Regions from separate parts of the Homo sapiens genome. Here regions 1, 2, 4, 5, 6 and 7 are each reported to be linked to region 3. The links are microRNA targets in miRTarBase. Many come from high-throughput screens and were not tested one by one. Region 3 holds a microRNA gene; each other region holds the end of a gene's coding sequence.

Region 1 (3,343 bases), not on the chromosome of region 3:
CCAGGCTGTAGTGTGTTATGATTGTGCCTGTGAATAGCCACTCAACTCCAGCCTGGGCAACATAGCGAGACCTCATCTCTAAAGACAGATACAGTCAATGAATGGATGGACAGAATGATGGAACTGTGGTGAATATAGTTTAATAATAGTGTGTGGTACATATCAAAATTGCTAAGAGTAAATTTCAGATGTTCTCACCACAAAATATGATAAATATTTGAGATGACAGATGTTAGTTTTATTTAATTAGTCCACATTTTATTCATGAATCATAATGTCACTTTATACCCTATAAATATATATAATTATAAATTGTTGATTTACAATAAATTTTTTAAAAAATCAATTGCGTACATCACTGATATTCTTAAACCCTTATTTGGAAGCTTCCCATGAATAACTTAAAGTTGCTGTGTTCTCTAGATGTCCCCAGTGTCCTAGACAGCACCAGTTAAGAACAGTGAGTGTTTTTTAACTGGGACTTCTTCCTGACCCTGAATTTTACTTGACTTAGTTTTTCCTCTTTCTCTCTTCTAATTCACAGAGCAGTAAAGAAGCCCTTTCAGAGGTGAACGCCACGGGAGTGGCCATGCTTTTCTCTGCCGGGACATTTCTTTATGTTGCCACAGTACATGTCCTCCCTGAGGTGGGCGGAATAGGGCACAGCCACAAGCCCGATGCCACGGGAGGGAGAGGCCTCAGCCGCCTGGAAGTGGCAGCCCTGGTTCTGGGTTGCCTCATCCCTCTCATCCTGTCAGTAGGACACCAGCATTAAATGTTCAAGGTCCAGCCTTGGTCCAGGGCCGTTTGCCATCCAGTGAGAACAGCCGGCACGTGACAGCTACTCACTTCCTCAGTCTCTTGTCTCACCTTGCGCATCTCTACATGTATTCCTAGAGTCCAGAGGGGAGGTGAGGTTAAAACCTGAGTAATGGAAAAGCTTTTAGAGTAGAAACACATTTACGTTGCAGTTAGCTATAGACATCCCATTGTGTTATCTTTTAAAAGGCCCTTGACATTTTGCGTTTTAATATTTCTCTTAACCCTATTCTCAGGGAAGATGGAATTTAGTTTTAAGGAAAAGAGGAGAACTTCATACTCACAATGAAATAGTGATTATGAAAATACAGTGTTCTGTAATTAAGCTATGTCTCTTTCTTCTTAGTTTAGAGGCTCTGCTACTTTATCCATTGATTTTTAACATGGTTCCCACCATGTAAGACTGGTGCTTTAGCATCTATGCCACATGCGTTGATGGAAGGTCATAGCACCCACTCACTTAGATGCTAAAGGTGATTCTAGTTAATCTGGGATTAGGGTCAGGAAAATGATAGCAAGACACATTGAAAGCTCTCTTTATACTCAAAAGAGATATCCATTGAAAAGGGATGTCTAGAGGGATTTAAACAGCTCCTTTGGCACGTGCCTCTCTGAATCCAGCCTGCCATTCCATCAAATGGAGCAGGAGAGGTGGGAGGAGCTTCTAAAGAGGTGACTGGTATTTTGTAGCATTCCTTGTCAAGTTCTCCTTTGCAGAATACCTGTCTCCACATTCCTAGAGAGGAGCCAAGTTCTAGTAGTTTCAGTTCTAGGCTTTCCTTCAAGAACAGTCAGATCACAAAGTGTCTTTGGAAATTAAGGGATATTAAATTTTAAGTGATTTTTGGATGGTTATTGATATCTTTGTAGTAGCTTTTTTTAAAAGACTACCAAAATGTATGGTTGTCCTTTTTTTTTGTTTTTTTTTTTTTTAATTATTTCTCTTAGCAGATCAGCAATCCCTCTAGGGACCTAAATACTAGGTCAGCTTTGGCGACACTGTGTCTTCTCACATAACCACCTGTAGCAAGATGGATCATAAATGAGAAGTGTTTGCCTATTGATTTAAAGCTTATTGGAATCATGTCTCTTGTCTCTTCGTCTTTTCTTTGCTTTTCTTCTAACTTTTCCCTCTAGCCTCTCCTCGCCACAATTTGCTGCTTACTGCTGGTGTTAATATTTGTGTGGGATGAATTCTTATCAGGACAACCACTTCTCGAACTGTAATAATGAAGATAATAATATCTTTATTCTTTATCCCCCTTCAAAGAAATTACCTTTGTGTCAAATGCCGCTTTGTTGAGCCCTTAAAATACCACCTCCTCATGTGTAAATTGACACAATCACTAATCTGGTAATTTAAACAATTGAGATAGCAAAAGTGTTTAACAGACTAGGATAATTTTTTTTTCATATTTGCCAAAATTTTTGTAAACCCTGTCTTGTCAAATAAGTGTATAATATTGTATTATTAATTTATTTTTACTTTCTATACCATTTCAAAACACATTACACTAAGGGGGAACCAAGACTAGTTTCTTCAGGGCAGTGGACGTAGTAGTTTGTAAAAACGTTTTCTATGACGCATAAGCTAGCATGCCTATGATTTATTTCCTTCATGAATTTGTCACTGGATCAGCAGCTGTGGAAATAAAGCTTGTGAGCCCTCTGCTGGCCACAGTGAGGAAAGTAGCACAAATAGGATACAGTTGTATGTAGTCATTGGCAACAATTGCATACAATTTTACTACCAAGAGAAGGTATAGTATGGAAAGTCCAAATGACTTCCTTGATTGGATGTTAACAGCTGACTGGTGTGAGACTTGAGGTTTCATCTAGTCCTTCAAAACTATATGGTTGCCTAGATTCTCTCTGGAAACTGACTTTGTCAAATAAATAGCAGATTGTAGTGTCTGGTTTGGTTTGGACAGTAGTGCTTTCTATCATATTGTTGTGTGCAATGGTAATTTGTTCTACTGGCCAAAGCCTCTTTCAGCAGTGCCTTGCCATCATGCTTAAAAGTTTGGCTAGTATATCTTGCTGGATGGAGCCTTGAACTCCGGCAAGGATTGAACCATCTGACTTCCAAATTTGCCTTCCCCTCTGGACCTCACTATTAACAAGCAAACCTTTCAGGGCCCTCTTAGCTCTCAGAAGCTATGTATGGGCTTTCCCAGATTTTAAAGCTGCTGCCTCGAGAACTACTCATTTCTCTCCTGGTCAGCAGACAGAAATAGCCATACTAATCTCATAGGGCTCAAATGCATCTTCAGGCAGCAGGGAACCAAGCAGCGTGGCACAGGCCTTCTTGACTGGAGGAAGAGCTTGCTGGCATGGTGGGCAGTATTCCAGGAGAGGCCATGTCCGTGTTCACTTCTTGGCACATTTCAGTTCCGTTTTCCTCTTGTTTAAAACTGCCTCTTTAGATGTGGATGCCTTAATGCTGTAACACATTTGAAAACATTGGCAATACTTAAGTTGCTGCCATGATTACAGATGGAATTATTGGCTACCAAAGAGACGC
Region 2 (3,343 bases), not on the chromosome of region 3:
CATGTAACACACACGCTGCAACCTGCATTTGCCACACAGTCCAGGGCATATAGAGCATTGTGATTCTTCACAGTCCGCAGAGACAAGACCAAAAATGAGGACTAAAAACTAAAGGTAGCTGAGTTTTTCAGATGGATTTTCACTCTGGCAAACTCAGTAGTTCACTCCCTCCCACCCCTCAAATCATTTAAGTAAAATGTTCTTCCAATAAACATAAATTGAGCTCTTCCTCTGTTATCCATCACATTCTGCCAGTTCTTTAAAACTGGAATATGGTACTAGGTACAGAAGGCTAAAGGGGTAGGAAAGCCCCAAATACTATAAAGATGCACTTATAAGCAGTGTGGGGTTATCACCACTGTCTACTTACTCTCCCATTCTAGGACACAGGGTGAAGAGACCACCTGGGTTCCCTCTAAAGCCCTGAACATTAGGACCACTGAGGAGGAAATATTTGTCCTTAAAAATAAATGTAGGTTCCCTGGATTGTTCTCTTTGGCTGCCACATTTGGAGCCTGAGTGGAGGCCCTTCAAATTAACACTGGTTCTGTAGGGACTGCCCAGTCAGGGTGCAATGGGATCAGACACAGGATCAAATCAGCCAGGGGCAGAAGGGCATGGTGGCCCTACGGGTAGAATGCACTGTATTGTTAGTTAACTTTCTAAATTGTTCTCTATTTAGCTTCAGCCTGAGTCAGGTCTACAATGGCCACTATTTAGAAAATAATTTAAATCAGTGAGGTAAGCACGCCGATTTGAAATATATCCAAACATCATTAAGCCTCTGGGTCATAAAACTTGGTCCCTGAACTAACAGGAGTATCTTACTCATTAATGACTAGGTTTGTTCCAAACGGCCCCTGCTGACACACATGATCCTTTTGTGTGGCACAATAAATCTGGTAATAGCAGAACAATAGCATGGCTTTTAAATAGGGTAATTTTATAATTCCTTAAGATGCTGGTTTGCTTCTTATAATGTGTTGTGTGGATTACAGTACTTAGACAAGGTTCACATTTACTTTAAAAGACTTCTATATTTTAATGCAAATCTAAGGATCATCCCCTTTCTTAGTTTATAGAAGATTCAAACTTTGTAAAACATAAATAACCTAGTACTCTAAACATCTGAAGCCCTTTGTAATACTCACTGTTTTTTCCTAATTTGAAAATAACTTATTTATATATCAAACATTAGAGCGGAGTGTAAACATGGATGTCAATCACCCTTTTAGTTTCATAAATTTGCTTTTAGCTTTCATCAACAGGCATATTTTCTTAACCTACCATGATCTCAAATGAGATAAAATATCCTTCTTCAAAAATTGTTAAGAATATTTATTAAAAAGTGCAATTCAAAAGTTAGCTGGGCAAGCACATCATTGCAAATCACAAAAAAGGGTGAAAAAACCAAAACCCCCAAATAAAACCACATGAAATACAAACAAAACAAAACAAAAAGGTTTAAAAAAAAAGTGTGCTGAGGAATGCACCCAAAAAGACAAGGAAATGAGAAGTCAAAGCTAGAACTCTATCCAGATGTTGCTGTTCTTTCCAAGTGCAAAAGAAGGTGGTGAGGAGAGACCAGCAGCCTCCACCACCGAGTTCTGGCTCTGGGTCCAAATACTACTTTAATATCAGATTATTCATCAGGGAAGTTATAAAAATATCCTATATACATGTGCACATTTGAGGCATTTTAAAAAGTCATCAGAAGGTTAAAGTTTAGTGTCTCAGCAGTTTCAGCTACTTAAACTCAATTAAAGCATCTATCATTTAAATTTGGATTGGCTCAGTTATTTGACTGCAGATGATAAAATCAAGCTGTCATCTTAGGGAAAAAAAAGAACCAAGTTTACCTACACATCCTTGCCATTACCCACAGAGTAAGAGAAGTCTGGCCCAGAGCTAACCTTTTATGTCATTACGTTTCTTAATAAATGTAATAAATGTACTAACCACTCCCAACCCCAACCCCCAGTGTAGAGTGCCCTAAGAGTAAAAGAACTGTAATGAGGACAATCTGGTATCCAAATTCATTCAAGTGTGTTACTGAGCTGTTTAGCAACAACATATGTAGCAATCACCCTCAAAACGCAAGCTGCACCTCTGGGGAGGAAGCCCTGGTACAGCAACATCAAGTCGGCAAGGATCAGGAGCTGACCTGTGGCGACATCATTAACCCTTCCCTAAGCTATGCCAATGCAGAACCCTCTTGCTCTTTTTAATTGCTCCTGTCAGTTAAAGCCACAAGTTGTTAGCACCCCCAAACCCCAGGGTGTTTCATTATTTTCCATTAGTTATTCTTACCACAAAAAAAAATGACCTGGAAAAGCAATTTTATCTTAGCATTTATCCCTGAAAAATGAAACACTGCATTTTCTGTCACAAACTGTTTCTGAGCCTTCTGTCCTCAATAATCATCAGCTCTCAGGGGATAAGAAATGCTACAGCAATGGGAAACGAAACATACCCAGAAGCTCGTATTCCTGACAGGTTTCTTTAGATGGGACAGCGGTGCACTGTCTGAGCACGGGGAAGGGTCTGAGCAGAAGAAAAGAGCTGCCAAAGATGCATGGAATGAGCAACAGCAAAACACCAGTGGAGTCTGTAAGTCCCTCCTCAGCAAACGAGGTCCCGGAAGGCAAGGCAGCAGCTAGTTCTCCTCCGAACTGGACAGGCGGCATGGGGCTTCTGTTGTCCAGCTGCAGCCAGGAGTGCAGACATCTATTTCCTCTTCCCACTGGCCCTTCCAGCGCTGGGATGGAGGAGCCATGTCAATTGTGGGGTCACACGGAGAAAAGTCAGTGCAGCAGTATGTTTCCAGGATAGGAATGTGAGTAGACGGCAATGTCACACGTGCTCAGCTTCTCCTCCTCCCCTCGGTTCATATGCAGGAGGAACTCGCACCCAGAGGCCCCGCCGTCACAGCACTAAGAAGAGGATGAGCACAACCAACAGGACTGCAAAGAGGATGGCTATGGCACACCATTGGCGCCGATCTGGAAGGCAGGACATGGGGATTAGCTCTCACAGGGACTCCACATTCCCCAAGATACAGTTATATGGAATTTATGGCACCCTTTGAAGCAGAAAAGGGGCAGAACGTGCAAATGACGGGGCCATGATCTTACACCTGCCTAGGTGCCTGATGCTCTAATGCTGCTCTGTTCTTGGCCTGCACTTCGCATGCAGTCACAACTTTGCCAGTCCCCTGAAAATGTCTCGTAATAATTACATGCTTTGTGTCTCAAGTCTTTAATTAAAATCTGCGGATCTTAGCTTTCTGCTGGTAGTTAGCATATCCTCAAAAAAGGTGTTGGCAATGGTGTTACAGATCAAA
Region 3 (3,343 bases):
GAGGGCCGCAGCTGTGGCTGGGTGCCCCCACCCCCTGGCTTCGCACCGCTGGCTCCCCGCCTGGGCCCTGAGCTGTCACCCTCACCCACTTCGCCCACTGCAACCTCCACCACCCCCTCGCGCTACAAGACTGAGCTATGTCGGACCTTCTCAGAGAGTGGGCGCTGCCGCTACGGGGCCAAGTGCCAGTTTGCCCATGGCCTGGGCGAGCTGCGCCAGGCCAATCGCCACCCCAAATACAAGACGGAACTCTGTCACAAGTTCTACCTCCAGGGCCGCTGCCCCTACGGCTCTCGCTGCCACTTCATCCACAACCCTAGCGAAGACCTGGCGGCCCCGGGCCACCCTCCTGTGCTTCGCCAGAGCATCAGCTTCTCCGGCCTGCCCTCTGGCCGCCGGACCTCACCACCACCACCAGGCCTGGCCGGCCCTTCCCTGTCCTCCAGCTCCTTCTCGCCCTCCAGCTCCCCACCACCACCTGGGGACCTTCCACTGTCACCCTCTGCCTTCTCTGCTGCCCCTGGCACCCCCCTGGCTCGAAGAGACCCCACCCCAGTCTGTTGCCCCTCCTGCCGAAGGGCCACTCCTATCAGCGTCTGGGGGCCCTTGGGTGGCCTGGTTCGGACCCCCTCTGTACAGTCCCTGGGATCCGACCCTGATGAATATGCCAGCAGCGGCAGCAGCCTGGGGGGCTCTGACTCTCCCGTCTTCGAGGCGGGAGTTTTTGCACCACCCCAGCCCGTGGCAGCCCCCCGGCGACTCCCCATCTTCAATCGCATCTCTGTTTCTGAGTGACAAAGTGACTGCCCGGTCAGATCAGCTGGATCTCAGCGGGGAGCCACGTCTCTTGCACTGTGGTCTCTGCATGGACCCCAGGGCTGTGGGGACTTGGGGGACAGTAATCAAGTAATCCCCTTTTCCAGAATGCATTAACCCACTCCCCTGACCTCACGCTGGGGCAGGTCCCCAAGTGTGCAAGCTCAGTATTCATGATGGTGGGGGATGGAGTGTCTTCCGAGGTTCTTGGGGGAAAAAAAATTGTAGCATATTTAAGGGAGGCAATGAACCCTCTCCCCCACCTCTTCCCTGCCCAAATCTGTCTCCTAGAATCTTATGTGCTGTGAATAATAGGCCTTCACTGCCCCTCCAGTTTTTATAGACCTGAGGTTCCAGTGTCTCCTGGTAACTGGAACCTCTCCTGAGGGGGAATCCTGGTGCTCAAATTACCCTCCAAAAGCAAGTAGCCAAAGCCGTTGCCAAACCCCACCCATAAATCAATGGGCCCTTTATTTATGACGACTTTATTTATTCTAATATGATTTTATAGTATTTATATATATTGGGTCGTCTGCTTCCCTTGTATTTTTCTTCCTTTTTTTGTAATATTGAAAACGACGATATAATTATTATAAGTAGACTATAATATATTTAGTAATATATATTATTACCTTAAAAGTCTATTTTTGTGTTTTGGGCATTTTTAAATAAACAATCTGAGTGTAAGCTGGGATCCTGGCTTCTTCGCGGTCTAGAGACAGGAATGGAGAGGGAGGGGGTGACTTTTTGGAAGCTGGGTGCAGTTAACTCTTCCTCTCCGAGCCCCGCGGCGCTTACCTGGCAGGAAGTGACGTCACCGGGCCTGGCCGTTCACCTGAAAGGGTGGGACCAGGTGAGGTCACCAGATGGGAACCGGGGGAGCCAGTTCCCGGGCGTCGGGGGCGCCGCGCTCCCGTCCTGCTGGGCTCCTTGACCCAGCTTCGGGCGGGTGCGGTCGGGGACGGGATGTTTCCGTCCCCACGGGGCCGCGGGAGGCGGGAGGGGCCGGGTGGGGAGGACGGAATGTGCTGGGGCGCGCGCCCAGAGCGAGCGGGGGCGGGCGCGGGGCGGGGCAGCCTGGGGTAGCGGAACCCGTTTCGGGACTAGAGGTTCCGGGGGGGCTTCGACACCTTCTGGATGTTGGGGAAGCGGGTTTAGGGTCTCAAGAGGCTAGGATCTCAACATTTGGGAGTCACAGGTTGCATCCCCTAGCGCTTTAGACTCTAGACCCCTGGTGGCTCGGAGTTGCAGATTTCTGGCCACCCGGGACCCTGGAGCCCGGGAATTACCGGGTCTTGGCATTTCCGAACCTTGGAAGTCCGAGGCTTCGCACACCGACCAGGGTCGGCCCCGCGAGGCCAGGGCGTGTGGGTAGGGGCCGCGCGTCTAGGAGGGGCCCCGGGGGAGCCGCGTCTTCAGACCATACAAGGCCAGCGTCGTCGGGACCAACCCCGGGGCCCCGCGCCCGGAAGCCGCCCTGCGTCAGCGCCTGCGGCTCGGCCCTGCCGCCCAGCCTTCGCCCCCTGCGACCCCTCTTTTTTCTCCTTGCCCCGCACTCCTCCCTCCTCCCTCTCACTTCCCTCTTCTCTCCTTTCCCTACCCTCACCCTTCCTCCTCTTTTTCACTTCCTCCTCTGCACCCTTCTGCCCCGCCCTACACCCTTTGCCTTCTGTTCTTCTCTCCCCCTCCAATTTGTCCCCTCCCTCATTACTCCTCTCCCACTTCCAGCCTCCCCATCCTGCCGTCTCTTACCCCCTTTCTCCTCCTTCCCGTCTCCCTTCTCTCCCTTTTTCCGTCCTTCTTTCCCTCTCCACCCTTTCCTTGCCCTCCCACTCCCCATTGTCCTCTTCCCCTCCTCCCCCTAGCCTTACTCCTTCTCCTCTTCTCTCTCCCTCTGAAGCCCCTTTCCCTCCTCTCCCTTCTCTCTACCCTCCTCAAGCCTCCCTCCTGCTCTCAGGCCTCCTTGGCCCACTCCCCTTGCTCACTGACATTTGGTCTCCTCTTCCAGGAAACTGCTTCCCTTGTGGGAAAGGGCTCAGGCCCTAATAAGTAGAAGAGGATCAGGCGAGAGGGAGTCAGAACCCCTGAGATGCAAAGGCAGCAGAGGGGCAGAGACCAAGAGCAAGCAGTGAAGAGACATTTGCAGAAACAGTCTTGGAGACTGAAAGAACAACATCTCTGGTCCTTCCTTTAGCCAGATCTGATTCTCTGCCCCTTCCCCAAAAAATCCCTCATATAAGAAAACGGCACTTCTCACCATCTACCAGGGCTTAAGCCAGACACCCAGGAGTATCCCTTGACACCTTGTTCTCAAATCCACACCCCAGTCCAACAGCAATCCTGTCTGATCCACCTGCAAAATAGATCCACTATCCACCTGCCCCCACCATGACCCCCACCCTGGTCCTAGCCAACATCGTCTGCCATTTGCATCTTCATAGCAGCCCCAGCCCCAGTCTCTGCTCTAGCCCCTGCCTTCAGTCTCTCCTTTCTCCACTCCCCCACGAGACAACCAAAGGAAGCCTGT
Region 4 (3,343 bases), not on the chromosome of region 3:
CAAAACCCTCACGAGTTACCGAATCGGCTGATTCAAAACCCTCACCAGGCACCAAATCGGCTGATGCTCTTGATCTCCGACTTGCCAGCGTGCAGAACTGCATAAATGAACCTCTGTTGCTTGCAAGCCCCCCAGCCTGCGGTATTTTGTTACAGTAGCACTAACGACTAAAACGGCCATGATCCTCCCACCAGGCCTCTTGAAAACTCCGATGCGTGCTGGGGAGAGAAGGACAAGGGCACAGGGCACCTGCTGTGATGAAAACAGCTTTGACCTCGGGACACCCTGGAAGGGTCCTGAAGCCCCCAGGCCACACTTGGAAGAACGAAGCATGTGGGTGTGAGTGGTCCGGGGCGGGGGTGGCAGCCAGCGCTGTTTGCGTTGGGCGTGTTTATAGACTTGATTTCTCTCCACACTTCATTCCAAGAGATAGACACTCAAACTATGAAAATTGTTTTTATTTTAAATCAAAGTACCAGGCAGATACTTGCAAAACAACATACAAAGCAAAACTCAAACATGGCCCTTCCCTAGGGCGCCTCTGAGCAGGCACAGAGAAGTTCTCACCCTCTGCAAAATCCAATCCAATCCTATCTTCTCAGAAAACCAAACCAAAGGCAGCCATGAAAACCCGTGTTCTGTACGTGGTTGAGAAGGTCCTCCTCTCTGAGTACTGGCTGGCCCCAAGGCGCAGAACTGGGAGGTCCAGGGAACCCTGCCCCCGAGGAGCCAGCAGGACCTGGAGGAGCCGGGGGCGGTGCTGACAACAACCTTCCCCACCCACTGCAGTGTGGTTCCCATGAGGATGAGGGCTTCTCCAGGGCCCTTCCCCACGCTGGGGCTTGGAGCCCCTGCCAGAAGCAGCTGGGTTGGCGGTAGATGTCCCCGAGGGCCTTGGGAAGCACTGGGAATGGGCTCCCAGCCCTGGTGGAATGGGGGATTGGGAATTAATTCTGAAGCTGGTTGTGGCTTATTTTTGTATGGCTCTGAAATTAACTTCCTCTCCCTATGCCTCAGTAGCTAAGGGGCAGGGGCAGAAAAGGTCCCAACCCTGTTCTTAAAAAGAAAGGAAATGAACCCACAACCCACTGGAAGTTCTGTTGACGAGGGCTGTCAAGGCAGACGCACTCGTGACTTTGACAAAGGGAAGCAGCTGGAAGGTTGCGGGTCCCAGGGTCACAGGCAGCTGTATTAGTGACAGGTTCTGAGCTGGTGGGTGGGGGCCGCAGGGCTCTCCTGACCCCCGTAGGGTCATACCGCTGCATGCTGCAGAACTCAACTAGAGTGGAAATGAGTTTAAAACGGAGTATGTACATCAAAAGATCAACATCACGCCGAAACCAGCTGACTGTGACAACAGCAAACAAAAATGTAACAGAGAAAACAAACAAGACACAGCCTCAGTAGCTTGACATGGGTGAGGGCAGCCAGGACAGGGCCCTGGTGACAATGGCGCAGAGGTGGGGTCTGGGCCGCTCACTGGACGGACAGCCAGCCAGTTCCCTTCGGAGCAGTGAAGTGGGACACAGGACCCTCGCATTGCGGGGCCTCAGACGGGCCTTCAACTGCCGACAGAATCAGCAGGAGCGTCCAGGGGAATCTGGCACTCAGGGTCCTCCCGGGACATGCCCTGTTGGAGACGGCAGGAGGCCTGGGCTGGCTGCTCCCTGAGATGCCTGCCCCAGGACCCTGGCCTGGAGGGGCCTCAGCCTGGTCTTCCTTGTGAGTCCAAGGCCAGGTCTCAGGACAGCCACAGACAGCCCTTCCAGACAGGCTCTGGGCTCCACCTTCGGCAGCTGCCCTGAGCAGCCCACCCGGGGCAGCCTCCTGAACACCCAGGGGCTCTCCCTTGGACAGAGACCACCAAGGGCCAGCCCAGGGGCTGCATGGGGGCCGGGGGCCAGGGAGCCAAGGGCTGTTCCGTGGCCAAGCAGCCCAAGCTGAAGGGCCCACATGGGAATCCTCGACCTCCATAGTGACTGGTTCTGTTTATGCCTCTGCCCCAGGACTGAAGCCCTAGGGACACACCTCATGGATCTCAGACCCCTGGGAGGGGCCGGCTCAGGGACAGGCTGCCCAGGACCTCCGCACCCGGTCAAGTGCACTCACAGGGGCTCAGGGGCCACCCAAAGAGCTAACTCGGGAAGCCTAGGCACTCACCATTATTTTGGTTGAAAATGCTATAAATCTGACTCTTCCTAGAAGCCTACTAAGCAATTCACTTAAAAACACCCTCAGTACATGTGCAACAATGCCTGGACCACGCCTCGTCTGTGCGGCCCCTGGGCCACCTGAGCACCGGCTGGGGGCGGGGGAGGCAGGCACCCATCAGGATCTGCACCCCAAGCTCCGGGTGCATGTTCCCAACTGGAGGAGAACGGGGCGCCAGCCACACTAAACCTACAGAAAACTGTGGGAAGAAACCAAATCCATAGGATCCAGAGGTTTCACACTTGGGCTTAGCTCCCAAGTCATGAGTTAGTAACGTCCCCAGGGACCTGGCTGGGTGCAGACATGGGGGCCTCGTGACCTGCTGCACCGCGTCCAGCACCTGCAGGGTCGCGCTCGGCACCTGGCTCTGCTTCCTCTGTCTCTGCTGCACCCAGGCTCCCCCTAGCCCCCGCCCACCTGGCTCCTGATCAAGGCCCAATGTGTAAACAGTATTAATAAGCAACAGATGGAAAAATATATTTCCCAAGAAAAAAGGGGGAGGAAACGTGGGACCTGAAGACCGATTTTCCAGGTTGCTCTCGCTGTTCTGTCCCCTTCTCTCTTCTCGTGATTTGTTTTGGCGATTCCTCTCTTTGGTTCTGCAGACCACGTGACCCACCTGCCCGAGCCAGCCCTGCGGCCTCTGCCCGCTCCCTGCTGCCGCGGCTGAGAGACAGCCAGCCCTGTCCGTCCCAGGGGCCTCGCCCTCCTGTCGGCTACTTCCGCTCGTGGTCCTCTGCCATGGCAGCCACCTCAATGGTGGCCGTGTGCTCCTCAGGCCCGGGGGCAGCCCCTGCGGGCACTGTCACAATTGTGCTGGAGCCAGGCGAGGCCTGGGCCACGTTCTGCAGGGTGGGGCCCAGGCCAGGCAACGTGAGCAGCTGTAGCGGGCTGACCACCTTGAACACCGTGCTACCGTCCTGCACGGCGGCCGTGCTCAGGACCGTGAGGCTGGACGCGTCCGGGTGGATCTCCACTGTGCTGGGGTAGGTGGAGCCGGAAGAGGCCAAGACTGTGTATCCCCCGAGCAGCGGGGAGGCCGGGGAGCTGGCGGGGGGCGCCTGAAGGGAACCCTTGCCCAGGACGGTGGACGGCAGGGTGGACACCACTTTACCAAGGGGCACGCTGGTCA
Region 5 (3,343 bases), not on the chromosome of region 3:
AGTATAGCTAATCACACAACATTCTAAGAACATGGGTACCTTTTCTGAACTAACACTTAGGCACCTCCTCAGTCATTAAGACTGTTATTTTATTGTACTCTATCTTCAAATTAGTAGCTGGTTAAAGAATACCATGCTAATGGTATTTGCTGTGCTTCTGGAGATAGTAACATTCTCAAAATGTGAGCAGGTAACAACTTGGGTTTTGAAATCTGTCTCCTTGACTTACACCAGACATGGTGCATCCCATGCCTTACAAATCAAATTTACCTTTTATTTCAACAGCAAATGTTCCTTAGAGGGATTACCCTCTATATCTGTGTAATTTTTTTTTTTTACTTTTGCACATGAGAAGAAAATTTGTATGGAATAAATTGGGTCTAATGAGTGACATCATCATGGCATTGCGTTGGATTTCCCATAAAGCTTTTCTTATAGAGCTTCTGTTAAAGTTTAAGCAGCCTGCCCTGTCATCTTCTGCAAAAACCAGCTGTTTTTTTCTCTCTCTCTTTTTGATGTTGTATATATTCCTGCAGAATTCATTAGGATGCATTGTACCTCCAACCCCGATTGGTGGATGCCCTCGGAAGAGCAGATAAACAAAGTGTTCAGCGACGCTGTCGGTCACGCCCGACAGGGGCGGGCGGTGGGGACTTTCCTGCACAACGGTGGCTCATTTTATGAAGGGATCGATCACCAGGCTTCTCAGGATGAAGTCTTCAATAAAAGTTCCCAGGATGGATCTGGGGATTAGTGGACAGAATCTTCCTGTTGTAGCAGCTGGTCCTCTCAAGAGTTCCAATTGTGAATGTCCTGTTCCTGTCACCTGAGAGTCCAAAGCCTGTCATTCTGCCATAGTCTACACATTCTCAGCTGCCACAGTACCCAAATAGAAATCCATTTTAGGGTTGTTTGGGAAGTCTGTGGCACCTACAACAGACTTTTGGAATATTATATTATAAAAAGAAAAAACTACATCTGATTTTTAAATGATTACTAGCTAGATCATGAGGGTGAAAAAATAGGTGAGCTCCTAGTTACCTTTCTGAAATCTTCAAACTCTGCTACCTGGGCAGAGATAGTCCCCAAGGTAGGCTGGGGTAGTGTTTCTGCCCATGGGAGAAGGTGGAGACATGGAGTTGTGTTAAGGGACAAGAAGCAAACATTCTCTTAATTCAAATAAGTTGTCTTTATGTTTTCCAAAGACTTGACTTCATATTTCTCGGCAAAGACATAGGATAGATGACATCATATACCATTTTGACATTAATAATGTCTATTACTAAAAGGAAACCAGAGAACAGAGGCAACATCTGCAGACAGTGATTAATTACAGGTCAACTGTTTTTCTGTTGTTTAAAAACCACTGTGTTGATCAAGAAGGCACTATTTGATCTCTGGAGTTTACAAACAGTAGTCATTTTTCATTGTTAGTCAAGAAACATCCAAAGATCCAAAACCATTTTCAAATGCTCAGTTTTGTAGGTTAATAAATCCGCAGTTTCCATAGCCTTAAATCAGGCTTTGTTGACACAATGCCAAAGTGATGGGTAGAACAATGAAAATTTAAAGCAATTAGTTGTTTGGTGCACTGAAGACCAAACAAGTGGTGTGACTGATGGTATTCGCTGAATTGACTAGATGTTCTGGCATTGTATACACACAGCTTCAAGGCGATTCTGACAACTATGCAATGGGCTTGTCAGTAATTGCTCTGAAATTTGAGGGTCTTTCTCTGCTGAGCTGATCTTTAGAATTTGTATGAAACTTGTTTCCCATTGTCCTTGATGAAAACATTTCATCCCCTCCGTGCCTCCTTTACCCCAATGTACCCCTTAGCTATGGCTAAGTCAGCACTGTGCCGCTATCCCCTGGTTAATTTGTTGAGTTCCATATGTGAAATTAGTGGTATCTTTGGAAACTTTCCATATTGGCAAATGCTATAGAGGTGCTAGAGTCATCATTTCTGAGGGCTTCCTGTTTGGACTCAGGAGAGGCTTTCTTTACCAAACTAGTCCAGATTACTACATTCTTTGTAGAGCAAAGGGCTAAATGGACAGCGTTTATTGAAGGCTACTAATGTCATCTACAGACATGACCAAGGGTTTTTGAAAATTGGTTGGAGATTCAGGTTAATGAGCATCCATTGATAAAGGGTTTTTGGGCTATTTTTGTCAACATAAACTCATAAATTGTCCTTTAGATTTAATATTTAGTTTGTATTCACTATATACAAAGTCCTAGAAACAGGTCTTTCTGTAGCTTTTGTTTATTAGCTTTTTTGTATTACTAGAATTCATCCATTGAAAAGTTTAATGTTTATGGAGGTGGTCATCTGTCAGATCTGCTCAATGATGTAGTGGGCACTAATATTTCAATCCTGTTTTGAGAAAATTAACTAAAATTTGTCATATCATTCAATGGAATAGGGAGAACCAATATTCAATTCTATTTGGGGCAAATTAGCTAAAATTTGGAAGTAAAAGAAATGATATGGGCAAATGCCATGTTCTTACGGCAGCCATGAGACCAGTCTCTTTGGCTCTCCAAGGAAGAAAGATACCTCTTAAAGCATTTTTTAGAGGTCCGAGAAGTCAGTGTCTGTCTTATAAGATTCTTTGACAACATGACATCTTCGCTAGAAGAAAAACACCACCATAGCCTCATCTGTTTTTCCATCTTACCTTAATTTTTCATTGGCCTTAAGTTGTCCTTACTGCTGAATACATCGTTCTGTTTTTCTAAAGCAACAATATTTGATCACTGCTTTTAAGAAAAACAGACTAGCCCTTCTTGTTTTTCTGGAAGTTTGAGAGTCCTGAATATTTCTTCATATCCAAATATCATCTTGGAGCCCTATCGTGCTGGTCTTCGCTGAGGCTGATGAGAGCACTTTCTGCACCCCTGCTCCATGGCCGTACATGACAACGCACCTGCACCACTGCTGCAAGGGCGGGGGGCAGCAGCCTGTGTTTTGGCTGTCACTGTTACCTCCTGAGAAGGCTGCTGTCCCAGGTTTGCACACCACTTTTGTTCCAAAGTTACACATGGTCTCTTCCTCCCTCGCACCCATTCCAGGTTAATCATTTCTCTATCAGCTGTTTCTCCATCCACAGATTCTGAATGTTGAGACTAATTGTTGGGCATCTCTTTTGCACAAGGCTGACAGACTCCATACTCAGCATCGCACAGCCAGTTCTAACTCCTCTGCTGGGTCTCGGACCTACAGCTTTTGCCTGAGTGAAATGTTCCTACGACTTTTGCTCCTGAGTGAGATATTCCATTGTACTTCTACTGTTTGTGTATCTGCTGGGTTCCTTTAGCCAAGCCTAGCGTCTGACGC
Region 6 (3,343 bases), not on the chromosome of region 3:
TAAAGGATTTGAAATGACGCAGTGGAAGGCACCCAGATGAAGGACAGGCGCAAGTGAACGAGCCTCAAATGCATACAGACTCCTGCATTTTAGCATCCGGATCCACCATTCACGGCAGAGCTAGACCCTGACACCAAAAATTGAGATGACTGATATACCGACTAGAACTCCAGACACCATCTTGTGATCCATCCCCCCACTCAGCAGAGGCCTAGAGAATGAATACCAGCAATGTCAAAAAAACAAACAAAAAATTCCACAGAAAATCTCCCCAGTCATTTGATTGTATAAATAATTTATTTCTGTTCACAGCATCATATATGCATTATAAAAGGCTATGGAAACAAAAGAGAAGGATGATGAGACAGAGAATTACAGCAGTAGAAAGGAAAACAGAAACCAGGGCACACAGTTCCAACACCAGAACAGAGAATTTGGGAAGATAATTGCTCTGAAACAGAACTGGCCTCCCTGTGTCTATTAGAAAACATTTCCAAAGCTCACGGAGGGAGGCCAACTTCCCCTATGGGAAACCCATTCACTCGCCAAAGGGCAGAAGGCATCATAAATCACCCATTGATACATTGGTGGGGGGCTCCCTGTCCCCCTGGTGACCACTCCAAGGTGATTTGATCTGTGCTTCCTCTGTTGGGTCAGAGACGAAACGGGCTATTATTAGGTCAAACATTACAGAAATCAACTGAGACTCTTAACTAGTAGTTGATACACCACAGGGCTTTACTTTACTGCACAATTACTAACAGTTGATTGCACCCTTAAGTATTGATTATGCAAAAAACAAAATCATCTCGCATCAGTTTTAAAGCATGACAGGGTTTGAACAGTGATCTTGAACCTAAGTATTGTTATCATGAGAAGGTTACAGTATTTGGCATCTGCAATGTCACAAAATAAATATATTATTCTCTCAATAGTGTGGAACTACCAAAATGTCAAAGTGCTTAAGAAATTGTCGCATGTGAAGAAAATAAAGAAAGATGGATTTTTTTTTTAATAATTCTATACAGAATCTTCAGATGATGGGACCAGCCCATTTAGAAATCAGTGGATATGCTGTCGATATGTAAACTGAAATCTTGCAGGCTTTTCAACACTGCTTAGCTAGACTTTCTCTACTGAGTTTCTACAAAAAGACCAGCATTGGAGGGGTACCAAATACACCGACAAAAGAGAAAAAGCAGATGGGCTGCTAGGTTTCTGCTTTTAAAAAATTTCATATAAGAATTGGGTTTCAAGCAGGAAGCCAGAACTTCTGCCTCTGGTTCTTAAATTAACATTCGGTGTGTAATGGACAATAGGCAGGGACTCATAATTTGACTAACTCACATGCTCAAGCATGATCGTGTCCAATTTCTACAGGCCTCCTTTGTAAAGAAATGTGTAACAATGGGGGGAAAGTCATAATTCTACCTGAAAACATGGATTGTAAGAGGAAATAAAAAAATCAAACAGTATGTTTTAAGTTTCCCTTTTGATACTGTGTTTCAGGGTAAGTGACAGCTTCTGCAAACCAAGACTCAGTCCTGATTATAAAGGATTTTTAAAATTACATTATTAAAAATATGTATTTATTCTTCTTTCACTTTATCTATTTTCCAAAGCCTCTTTCAAGTAAACTGTGAAGTGCCTGAGTACCAGTGACCATGACGTCACACTTTCTTTTATCTCAAGCACTCATTGTTGTTTGCATTTGCCCAAAGTGCTGGCTGGCTCCGAAGGCCAGTTCCCACAAGAATGAATTCGGAAAGACTTCATCCTTGTGTTTTTCCTTCTCTTTTAATTCCATGCAACGAGGTCAGCTTTTGCAACAAGGTGGGGTTTTATTTTTTTGGTGCATGACATCAAATACTCTAACGAGACATTTTTAATGAAAGACTTAAACCAGATAGGCCACAATGAACCAAATTAGAAATCTGAACATGTCACCACTTGCAGCATAAAGGAATATAAAAGGGCAGAGCAAAGTCTTTTTTCCTAAGGTGAATATTTCTAAGGTAAGTATTCATTTGTAAAAGTTTTTTTTTTTCATCATGTCTGAAAACCCATTATCACGCGGTTAGTATTACAAGAGACATCCCTTGGTTAAAAAAAAAAATACCATCTTGCAATTCAGCACACACCTGCAGCTGGTGTGCTCATCCAAACCAATCAGTAGGCTAAGAGAATTTAAAATTCCATACATATGAGTCTAGGTATTAATGCCGATTACACAGTACACAGTACAGAGGGAGGTCCCTATATCCACACACACACACACCCCATCCAGCATTTACACCAAAAGCCTTACCCTTTAAACACCTTTAACTATCCTGCAAACAGTAAATGCATCATTGGCCACCACCTCCAATAGTTCGTCTTTTTTTTTTTTTATTTTTTTTATTTTTATTGGTCTCTTTGTGTGATAATGACCTACACATGGACAGGGTCCAAACCATCTGGAAGATGTCTGATTCCAGGCTGAAAAGCAGTTCTCAACAAAACTGGTCTTCTGCAGCCACCACAAAGCACCAGGAAAAGGGCACCTCCGCGGCCATCCCCAGCCAGGCCAGCACAGCGCTCCGTGCCCGCTGAACCGTCCCAGGCAGTCCTCTGATGACCCAAACCACCACCACCTTTGGGCCCAGAGCAGGACAAATGAAATTTCAACAGGGGCCTGCCCTGTGACCGAAAATTACTCAGCTTCACAGCCCCTGAATGCAAGGAGAGGTGGTCCCCCCAGAACCAACATGCCCCCCAAGGTGGGTACGCCCACGGTTCTGGGAAATGCATACCTCAGGTAATTCACAGGTGCGATCCCCCAGTGGAGGCGGGGCAGCCTGAACTTCTGGCCCTGCAGGAGTGGGAAGAAATCGCTTTTGTCTTTCCGACAACTGAGCCTTCCACCTGGGGCTGGGAGGGCGGACAGCAGGACCGGCTCTTCCACTCCCCACCGCGGCCCCCCGACCTGGTCAGTAGCTCTGGCGTTCAGACAAAAGGTCCCCTGAGCTGGGGGTGGGGGGCAGGTCGAGAGTAGGCCGGTAAATCAGACTTCGCAGCTCCTTAAGTCACCAGTCCTGCATTTGGGTGCAGAGATTCCGTTTTAAAAATTCGAAGCATCGCTTTGGTTCGCTCTTTGTTCGCGGGCGCGGGTTCTCGCTCATCCATCCATCCATCCATCCAACCATCCATCCATCCATTCATTCTTTCTTGACGCACTCGCTCGCTCCCCGGTCGCTCCGGGCGCATTACCGCTTCTTCTTCTGCTTGAGGGACTTCCTGCGTTTCAGGATCATCTCATAGAGCTTGTCCATGCCCTCGGTGAGGCCCTCGCCGATGATGGCGC
Region 7 (3,284 bases), not on the chromosome of region 3:
GGCCTCCCTTCTGGGTGCCTGGTCCCATTTGGGCCTCACCCTGGGCAAGGTCCCCGTAGCTGCCCCTCCCATCAGGTAAGCCCCACCCCCCGAGTTTCACTCTGAGTGGTTTGTCTTTGCATAGAGCTTCCCCACCTGATGGTGACTGCCGTGGGTCCCACAGGTCCGGTGTCCATTTTTAAATTTCACTGCAGACATTGCGCTCAGGCGCCCTCTGAAACCGCCACAGAGGTGTCATCCCCAGGTCCCATCGGGCCTTTGTCTCCTGGCCTCCCCGTGTGCAGTGGTGCAGTGCTAGCTCACTGCAGCCTCCACCTCCCAGGCTCAAATGATCCTCTCACCTCAGCCTCCTAAGCAGCTGGGACTGCAGGTGCCACCTCACCCGGCTATGCCTGGTAACTTTCCTGCCACTGTGACACCAGCCAGTTCAGGCAGTCCCTCGCCTGAGCCAGGTACTCTGCGTGTCTCAGCCTAGCCCTGCTGTCCCTACCGGTGGGTGAGACGGCGCCCGGTCCCCAAGGCTGGGATCTGACGTGGGAGCGAGGCTCTTATTTGTTGCTGTGTGGCAGCAAAAGATGAAAAAGTGGACTCTGGCTTCAGAGCTGTGAGAAAACAGTGGTTTTTTTTTTTTTGAGATGGAGTCTCGCTCTGTCTCCCAGGCTGGAGTGCAGTGGCGCGATCTCGGCTCACTGCAAGTTCTGCCTCCTGGGTTCACGCCATTCTCCTGCCTCAGCCTCCCGAGTAGCTGGGACTACAGGCGCCTGCCACCACGCCCGGCTAATTTTTTGTATTTTTAGTAGAGAAGGGGTTTCACTGTGTTAGCCAGGATGGTCTTGATCTCCTGACCTCGTGATCCGCCCGCCTCGGCCTCCCAAAGTGCTGGGATTACAGGCGTGAGCCACCGCGCCCAGCCTGAGTAAACAGTTTTTGGTTGTGTTTTTTTGTTGTTGCTGTTGTTTTGTTTTTTGAGAAGGAATTTTGCTCTTGTTGCCCAGGCTGGAGTGCAATGGCACGATCGCAGCTCACTGCAACCTCTGCCTCCTGGGTTCAAGCGATTCTCCTGTCTCAGCCTCCGAAGTAGCTGGGATTACAGGTGTGCTCCACCACACCCAGATAATTTTTTTGTGTGTGTTTTTAGTAGAGACGGGGTTTCATCATGTTGGCCAGGCTAGTCTTGAACTCCTGACCTCAGGTGATCTGCCCGCCTTGGCCTCCCAAAGTGCTGGGATTATAGGCATGAGCCATGGTGCCCAGCCCGGTTTGTTGTTTTAAGCCACCAACTTGTGGGAACTGGTTATAGCAGCCACAGGAAAGCCCCTGCTGGACATCGTTATGATCCCTTTTGCCCCAGCCCTGAATATTCCAGACTGGTCCAGAACCTCAGCCCCAACTTTTCAAGTCCCTGGTCACGGCTGTCCTCTGGAAGCCTAGGGGCACACTCCTCTCAAGGCAGGAGAAATGTTAACTGTGAAGGTTAAATTGGAGAAATGTTAACTGTGAAGGTTAAATTGGAGAAATGTTAACTGTGAAGGTTAAATTGCATTATTTCTTTTATTTTTATGATTTTTTTAATACCAAAAAAAAGAGACAAGATTTTGCCATGTTGCCGAGGCTGGTCTCAAACTCCTGACCTCAACTGATCCTCCCGTCTCGGCCTCCCAAAGTGCTGGGATGACAGGCGTGAGCACTGCCCTGCCTTGTGCTTTTATTTCTAAACACATTTTCCTAATGTATTTTTCTGATGACTCTCAAGGGGAGGATGGCTGTTTTGGCTGGGTGTGGTGGTGCACACCTGTAGTCCCAGCTACTCAGGAGGCTGAGCGGGGAGGATCGCTTGAGCCCAGGAGTTTGAGGCTGCAGTGAGCTATGATGGTGCCACTGTTCTCCAGCCCAGGCAACAGAGCAAGGCCCTGTCTCTAAAAAAATAAATATTAAAAACAAAAACAAAAACAAAACAAAAACAAGGAAGAGCAACTGCATAGCTGCCTGACAAAACGAGAGCGTGGCTCAGCCCCACGGCCCTGCGCGGCCTCCCTGGAAGCCCCTGTGCTGTGCCGGGCACTGGGCTCCCCATGCAGGTGCTGCGTCTGCCCGGCTCTGTGCTCTGAGTGCATGCGATGTGCCCGAGGTGTCGGGGCAGGGAGGAGGATTGATCTCGATGGTGACCCAGTGAGGTAGGTGTCATTGGCCCCATTTTACAGATAGGGAAACCAGGGCATCAGTGTGACCTGGTCTAGGCAAGGCCTTTGCGGCAGACCCAGATCTGACTCAGCCCCGAGGGTGCAGGGAGCTGGCTTTCTCCGCCAGACAAGCAGGCCAACTGCTGCACTCCCCCCTCAGTAAGGGGCTAGGGGTGGGGACCCCACCCTGTACGGACCCCTCACCAGCATCTCCCCGAGGATGCCGCTGGGGACTCCTGGCACCCCTTGCCTCTGCTGTGGCTGTGTCACACCTGTCCTGCCAACTGTTGTTCTGGGCGTGGACATTTGGGGCTCCCCGTTGAGGACGCCTGGGCTGCGCTCTGGGAGCCAGCAGCTGGCCACCCTGCCCCACGGTTCCCTAGAGGCCCTCCAGCTCAGCACAGACCCAACCCCAGATGAGGGCGCCTGCCCCCTTGGAGGTGGTAGGCTGCCCTATGCCCTCCTGGGCGCTGCCACAGTGCTGGGTGACCTCCAGCATGGTGCTCACTGACATTCTGAGGCAGGAGCCCAGAGGGCCCACAATGCACCACCGCATCCAGGCAACGCTTGCAGAAATGCTCCGCAAATAAAGTCATCGCCACTGATGCGAACAGGGCAGCCACCAGGTACCTCTGCCAGCAGGCGTGCTACCTGCCCACAGCCAAGGGAGCCAGCCAGGCAGGCTGCTGATGAAGAGGCCCCACTGCCTGCCACATGCTCTCTGGGCTCCCGGAAGCCTGGAGGTGTCGCTCCTCCCCTTGGCATGCAGCCACCTTCCATGTGGGAAAGCCTGGGGCCAGTGGTCACGGAGGGAGTGGCTTCAGGAACGAGAAATTGGTAGTTTGTCTTCCAGAGGGGACATGGGCACTGTGGCTGGTGGGCTCAGTGCACAGGAACCACATTGCTGGCCCCAGGACCCCCAACCTGCCATCCCCCTGCCACACAGTGGGCTCAGCAGGACTCCTCAATCAGCCTCTTTGCAGGGCATGGTGACCCTGGTGGGTGCACGGGCCTGGAGAAGGTGTAGTGGTCTGCAAGGGCCACGGGCGACTGCAGCTCCTCGGTGTCCCTGCTGTGGGTGAGCCTGGTGACGTCTGTCTTCAT

The links. The annotated mature microRNA hsa-miR-4530 reads CCCAGCAGGACGGGAGCG and lies in region 3 at 1,725-1,742, opposite strand. An mRNA with a match to its seed (bases 2 to 7 or 8) in the 3' UTR can be bound and repressed. Matches are read on the target gene's strand: a 7mer-m8 pairs with bases 2 to 8, a 7mer-A1 pairs with bases 2 to 7 and ends in A, and an 8mer does both.
Region 1: miRTarBase lists SLC39A9 as a target of hsa-miR-4530. Seed matches in the 3' UTR shown: 7mer-m8 at 1,984-1,990, 7mer-m8 at 2,488-2,494 and 7mer-A1 at 2,858-2,864.
Region 2: the mRNA of STX6 is a reported target of hsa-miR-4530. Seed matches in the 3' UTR shown: 7mer-m8 at 1,585-1,591.
Region 4: the mRNA of GMEB2 is a reported target of hsa-miR-4530. Seed matches in the 3' UTR shown: 7mer-A1 at 2,544-2,550 and 7mer-m8 at 730-736.
Region 5: the mRNA of BEND4 is a reported target of hsa-miR-4530. Seed matches in the 3' UTR shown: 7mer-m8 at 3,208-3,214 and 7mer-m8 at 3,307-3,313.
Region 6: miRTarBase lists ARL4C as a target of hsa-miR-4530. Seed matches in the 3' UTR shown: 7mer-A1 at 2,283-2,289.
Region 7: miRTarBase lists GPR132 as a target of hsa-miR-4530. Seed matches in the 3' UTR shown: 7mer-m8 at 2,816-2,822, 7mer-A1 at 2,672-2,678 and 7mer-m8 at 2,529-2,535.

The regions. Positions count from the first base shown.
Region 1 is chr14:69,457,819-69,461,161 of GRCh38, forward strand. SLC39A9 (solute carrier family 39 member 9) reads left to right here. Exons shown (of 7, transcript NM_018375.5): 7 at 545-3,343. The coding sequence ends at 775. Among named protein-coding and RNA genes, the nearest start is that of PLEKHD1, 25 kb to the right of the region's middle. RefSeq lists a silencer at 2,470-2,519.
Region 2 is chr1:180,973,645-180,976,987 of GRCh38, forward strand. STX6 (syntaxin 6) reads right to left here. Exons shown (of 8, transcript NM_005819.6): 8 at 1-3,002. The coding sequence ends at 2,926. Among named protein-coding and RNA genes, the nearest start is that of KIAA1614-AS1, 20 kb to the left of the region's middle.
Region 3 is chr19:39,407,905-39,411,247 of GRCh38, forward strand. MIR4530 (microRNA 4530) reads right to left here and starts at 1,774; the gene lies at 1,719-1,774. ZFP36 (ZFP36 ring finger protein) reads left to right here. Exons shown (of 2, transcript NM_003407.5): 2 at 1-1,503. The coding sequence ends at 795. RefSeq lists enhancers at 1-633, 634-1,271, 1,534-2,124 and silencers at 1,777-1,836, 2,187-2,506.
Region 4 is chr20:63,587,162-63,590,504 of GRCh38, forward strand. It overlaps GMEB2 (glucocorticoid modulatory element binding protein 2), which reads right to left. Exons shown (of 10, transcript NM_012384.5): 10 at 444-3,343. The coding sequence ends at 2,928. Among named protein-coding and RNA genes, the nearest start is that of HELZ2, 15 kb to the left of the region's middle. RefSeq lists enhancers at 317-486, 1,080-1,249, 3,167-3,336 and a cis regulatory region at 402.
Region 5 is chr4:42,114,929-42,118,271 of GRCh38, reverse strand. It overlaps BEND4 (BEN domain containing 4), which reads left to right. Exons shown (of 6, transcript NM_207406.4): 6 at 537-3,343. The coding sequence ends at 754. Among named protein-coding and RNA genes, the nearest start is that of BEND4, 36 kb to the left of the region's middle.
Region 6 is chr2:234,492,763-234,496,105 of GRCh38, forward strand. It overlaps ARL4C (ARF like GTPase 4C), which reads right to left. Exons shown (of 2, transcript NM_001282431.2): 1 at 3,250-3,343; 2 at 279-3,074. The coding sequence ends at 3,044. Among named protein-coding and RNA genes, the nearest start is that of ARL4C, 2.6 kb to the right of the region's middle.
Region 7 is chr14:105,047,863-105,051,146 of GRCh38, forward strand. It overlaps GPR132 (G protein-coupled receptor 132), which reads right to left. Exons shown (of 4, transcript NM_013345.4): 4 at 1,533-3,284. The coding sequence ends at 3,132. All of the region lies in intron 1 of LOC124903398 (a long non-coding RNA gene), which reads left to right. Among named protein-coding and RNA genes, the nearest start is that of GPR132, 16 kb to the right of the region's middle.